Linked DNA regions of Homo sapiens: region 2 is linked to region 1. Evidence: fine-mapped expression QTL. A gene starts in region 1. The other region holds a variant in brackets. All regions are shown on one strand. Distances are from middle to middle.

Region 1 (2,833 bases):
AAACAAGCATGTACATTACTCAGACAAAGGCTTGGTCCTATGAGACAATGGGGCATGTTCTCATAAGATTCCTGTGAACTTTGTAGGCTCTTGGGGCTACAGGAAAACAATTTTAATTGAAGAGAGAAAGAAGAATGAGACCAGGATGTGGCCATGGGTGATCTCAGCTACAGAGCATCCTGCCCAAGAAGCCTTGGCACAGTCCACGTGATGTCATGCCCCAGAGTTAAAGAAACTAGTAACTCACTGCAATTCTTGAGTTTATAAGATGACAGACAAAAAAGAAACAACGTGTGGAGATGTTGAAACTCCCTCTGCTTATGAGATAAAAAGAACTGGCTGAAATTGGTTGGAACCAATGTGGCCAAATAAAGTCTGCACAGAACAAGCTTGCTGATGTCACAGCCTGAATTTCAACACAAGTTTCATACTAACTACCCCCAAATTTGCACATGAGACCCATGAGGAGGTATGAAGAGATAACTGTGTGAGGCTGAGGACTTTCCAGACCTCCCTTTTCCTTCTACCAATTACCTACTAACCCCAGAATCCACCCCTAAACCTTTTCTAATAAAATTACTGCCTTAAAGCCAGCACAGGAAGACAGATTTGAGCTGTACTTCTGTCTCCTTGTTGGTTGATGTACAATAAAAAGCTTTTATATTTTCTCAAAAAAAACAGTGTCTTGGTATTGGCCTCTAGTGCACTGGGCAGTGATCCCCTTTGGCCGATAACACATACACAGGGTAGGCAGCAGCCATGGCTTAACTTTGGGTGCCGTTTTCTTGTTAGGCCACTTGAGCCTTGGGTGGCTAAATCCTAAAGCGTGGTTGCTTCCAGCTTCAGAGTCTCATCCATTTTCCTGAGTGCCATTAAAATATTTTCATTTCTGCATGTGCCTTGGCCATGGAAGGGATAGGTCTCTCCTCTCCCAGTCTCCCTGACGGTTGCCAGGCACCTGTTTGTGTTTGAAATAGAAAAACACACAGGATTCCACACCAAGTGTTCTGCCTGAGCAGGGCACTGGCAACCGGGGTGGAGCTGCAAGAGCCTTTGGCCCCATGGAGGGACTGCTGGCTGCCGGCTTCTTCACTTCAGCTCCTTCTGGAGATGACCAAGTCTGTGGTGGTGCCTGAAGATTTAAGCAAGGCCCAGGTCATGCTGGGTTTCATGGGGAGATGATGGTATTGCGTTGTTTGTTTTCATAATAAGCAAGCAGGATGTGAAGAGGGGAAATGAAGTCATCAAAAGGTTTTTGTTCTTCCCAAATTGAAGAATAACAAAATCCGTGAAAATTACGAATTGATTTAAAAAGTCTAAAAAAACCTGAAGTCACCCCAGGTCTTCAAAACCTTAGAAACACTGAATTTGGCAGCAAACTATAAGAATTTGTTGGCTTATTTCTTTTCTTTCTCTTTCTCTTTCCTTCCTTCCTTCCTTCTTTCCTTCCTTCCTTCCTTCTTTCCTTCCTTCCTTCCTTCTTTTCTTCCTTTCTTCCTTCGTTTCTTCCCTCCTTGCTTTTTCTTTTCTTTTATTTTCTTCCTAAAGATAGAGCTACTCAAAAAATAACTAGAAAGAGAGAAACCCACTGATTGGATTCAAGGTGTGTTTATGGGTCAATGTGTGTTTAAGGCTGATATTCAAAAAGCAACATAGTCACTAGAAAATAGCAAAAGTTCTATCCTACAGGTTCATCAGGACAAAGACAAAAATTCCTTAAAATTATCTCAAAAGAGTGAAGAATATCAGAAAATGTTAACAGACTGGATAAAAATGTAGATATTCAGGAAAGTCTAAAACCATTCATAATAAGCTCAAAAATTAAAAGAAGAAATAAACAATCTCAATGAACCTAGTAAAGCCACATCCACAAGCATAGGCCAAGTCACACATGACAGAGAATGACAGATCTGATCCCTGTCTACAGCCAGGGAAGTCTGACACCCTCGCCTGGCCCCCTTCTTGATAGTAACACTGTGGGGGGCAGAGAGGGGTGACTTGGACTAGGATACGTAAAGTGAATCCGGAAAAGAGACAACCTGGATGATCAAGCAGGAACTGATTTAAAGGAATTGATGTCTGCTGCTAAGGTAGGTTATTTTTAAACCTCAGAAGAGGAAATTTAGGAAATGCATTACAGTTTTCTGAGCAAAATAAATGGACTACTTAGAGTTTGAACTAATAGTCTCTAAACCGAGAAAGCCCTTCACGGTTAGAAAATGCGCAGTCTGACAATGAGATCCAAGTGCTTCAACTGTCATGCATTTCAGCTGCCTGCACTTTTTCAAGGACATGCATTACAATTCCACAGAAAGTTCTCTGAGGAGCTAGAGATGGAGAAATAGCTTTCTATGGTATGTGAATATGTCACAAGAGAGGCAAGTGAATATTTGCCCTTTTCACATCCTCATCCTAGTCACTTCTTATCCACCACCGCCTCTGGCCCCACTGTCCTCTGCACCTGGTGTTATGAAGCACAGTGGGGAGCAGGTGAGGGATGGTACACTGTAGCCTCAGGTCCTATGGATGTGGGCTTGGATCCTGGCTGCTTACTATCCTCCCTGGCTGTGTGTCTCCAGATGAGTGATTTAACCTCTCGGCGCCCCAGTTTCTGCATCTGTAAAATAGAACAAATCAAAGCACCTCACTCATAAATACTATTGAGAAGCCTCAGTGAGATATTTCCCCTCAAGCACTGGCACAGCAAGGGAGTGTGGTGGACGTTTCATGAATGATGTTCCTCACTTTAATTTGAAGACTTAACATCCTCATTTCGCAGTTGAGGAAAGACAGGCTGAGAGGTTTGGCTGTTAGATCAACATCACACAGCTCA
Region 2 (2,804 bases), 46 kb after region 1:
CCTGGTTTTCACCTATTACCTTAGTCCAGGATCTGCTATATTCTTGTTTCAGGTTATTTGTTTACAAGGGACAGGAAATATCTCCAAGTAGTTCAAGCTAAAAGGAATGACTTATTCCAAGAAAGAGAAGGAAGGTAGAACCAAGGTGTGGATGTACCTAAGAATCAATGGAGAGCACTTTCTGCCTCCTATGCCTTCTTTTTCCTCCTTGCTATATAGGTAGACTTTATCTAGGTGACAAACAGAATAATGCACTTTTGAATTCTCAAGTTCACATCACGAATATGACCAGAGTAGATGTAAGTGTGAGGTGGGTCTGTGAGATAGCCTGCTGTGGATAGGCTATACCAACCATAACGTATTTTTCCAGCCTTTACAAATGGCAGAGTCATTGTGAGGAAGGAACTGGCTGCCATTCAGGTGCCACATCTAGTACTGAGCCCTTCCTAAGATGTGCTGTTCAGTCTTATCGATGTCACACATGACGTCGATTTGCAGATACTAATGGCAACAAATGCATTGTCACAATAATTGAAGAGTCATTCTCTTGTCTCCTGCTAAACTTCCAGTAAATCCATTAAAGTCACATAAATGTTGTCTTGTGATGCACAACTGAGCTAACAAGAAGAACAGGGCTTTGTTTCACAACTTGTTGCTCAAATTGTTGTGGCATTTGGGGTTTTCCCCATTAGAAAGGAAAGAACATCCTGTCTCAAAAATAGAGTAAGTTTTGGTGAAGAAATTGAAAATCTAGCGGGGCTACAAATCTCAATCATTCAATTTAAATTATTATTTAAAGCACTGCTTTAGGGATTTCATTGAGGTTAAAGCACTTTACAACGCAGCCCAGAAGCACTGCATTTTTGTTTCATTGAATGTTGAACAGGATTGCAGGGTTTCATAAAACCTTTTAGTGACTGTTGCTAATCCAAGCCACAGCATCAGCTTAGTTCTGCTGTGATAGGTAACCAGGATGCTCCACTCACCAAACCCTAGGTTCTGGCCTGGGACTGCATCTGCCTAGAGGAACCAGAGCCTGGAGCCAGGAGTGGGCCAGAGAAGCCCTGCTCTGGGGCTGGAGATTAGCAAGACGTGACTCTGAGGGCCAGGACACACTTTGCAGGCTTATGTCCTCTGCCACCTGGTAGTATTTCCACACCCC[T/C]AGAAGTCACCACGCACAGGGCGTAATTCAAGGTCTGAACTTAAGCATTTCTAATGCAGCGAACTGCATCGTTGAGGAAAAGACTGATGAATGCTTCCATACAATGTGGGGAGAAAATATTACAGCTAATATATTTTTTGTTTGTTTCAGAAAATGCAAGAGTGAAAAATAAGCTTTCAGCTCTGGGATGATAGAAATCCTCAGATTGGACGGCATGAAGTGGTCAGAAAATGACATCAGCCCAACCTCACGAGGCCCAATCAATAGACTCAACATGATGGCGTTTCTGAGAGCAGTGGCTTCTAAGGCATGGGTAAGACCCCAGCTCTGCCCCTACGCCTGACCTACTGTAGATTTTTTAACTTCCTCAAACTTCAGTTCTATATTTGTAGCAGGAATGTTACAGTAGTTCCTAATTTCAGAGTTTCCGGAAGAGTCTATGGATTGAGCTCTACCGTGAAAGTACAGAGATTTAGATGACTGGCGTAACTGATGTGTGAGACATTATTTTCACCGTAAAATTACTCCGTCTTTACTAGCAAGACTCCCAATGTCTCTAAATCTCACCAAGAAGCCTTTAGCCAGGGGTCCCTTCTGATGGCAGCCTATGTGAAGAGGCCACACCAAGCCTGGCAGAAGGTGAAAGTACCCCCAGGCCACGATTCTCATCAATTCCCGTTAATTCCCAGAGGTTTACATGGTGCTGTGTGGTGAGGGCTGCCCCCGTTCTGTCCAGTTTAATCCTGAAATGAAATTAAACACCTTCATTACATTACACACAAGCACACATATGCAGACACACAAACACACATACCCACACACAAACACACTTATGCCACACATACACAGACACACAAACACACATATACACGCACAGACACACACACATATACACCCACATACACACACAGACACACACATGCACACATACTCACACAGACCCGCAAACACACTTATGCACACACATACACAGACATGCACAAACACACATATACACACATACACACAGACACACACACATATACACACATACACACAGAAACACACAGACATATACACACAGACACATACACAAACACACATATGCACACACATACCCACACAGACACACAAACACACTTACACAAACACACGTATGCACACACATACACAGATACACACACGCATATACACACAGACACACATAAATACACACAAATATGCAAACACACACAGACACACATATACACACAATACATACACACAGACACACACAAATACGCACACAAACACACATGCACACACACACACAAACACATACACACATATGCACACATACATACACACACATGCACACACACAAACACACAGATTAACAAACACACATATGCACACACAGACACACAGACACATACACAAACACTTCTTTACCCCAAGTATTTCATGATTTCGGGAACTTTATTAAACGTTTAGACAGTAACATCTTCGGCTGAGATCCCCTGGAAATAGATGCTGAAGCCAGACCTTGAGCATCCAGAGTCCATTTGGGACACAAATTCACGATGACGTAAAGTATATTTATGAGCCATTTACTGCTGTGAGCAACTGGGACCCAATCCCGCTGAGCCCTTCCATGAGAAGGTGCAGGGCACAACTCTGAACT

Direction of the effects. Alleles are on the strand shown, and positions count from the first base shown. SD is a standard deviation of normalised expression in the study named.
For the expression in monocytes after LPS of the gene that starts at base 1,043 in region 1, allele C in region 2 goes with a higher level than allele T (moderate effect, 0.74 SD a copy in Quach 2016).

The links. PIP is the estimated chance that this variant, and not a neighbour inherited with it, causes the effect. A credible set is the group of variants that fine-mapping cannot tell apart.
Region 2: its variant is the best candidate, but not a certain one, in a credible set for the expression of LINC02376 in monocytes after LPS (Quach 2016, PIP 0.70).

The regions. Positions count from the first base shown.
Region 1 is chr12:127,282,493-127,285,325 of GRCh38, reverse strand. LINC02376 (long intergenic non-protein coding RNA 2376) reads left to right here and starts at 1,043. Exons shown (of 4, transcript NR_146537.1): 1 at 1,043-1,184; 2 at 1,690-2,090. It overlaps LOC124903050 (a long non-coding RNA gene), which reads left to right. Exons shown (of 3, transcript XR_007063523.1): 3 at 1-678.
Region 2 is chr12:127,236,072-127,238,875 of GRCh38, reverse strand. No RefSeq gene overlaps it. Among named protein-coding and RNA genes, the nearest start is that of LINC02376, 47 kb to the left of the region's middle. The variant T/C (reference allele first, on the strand shown) is at 1,163.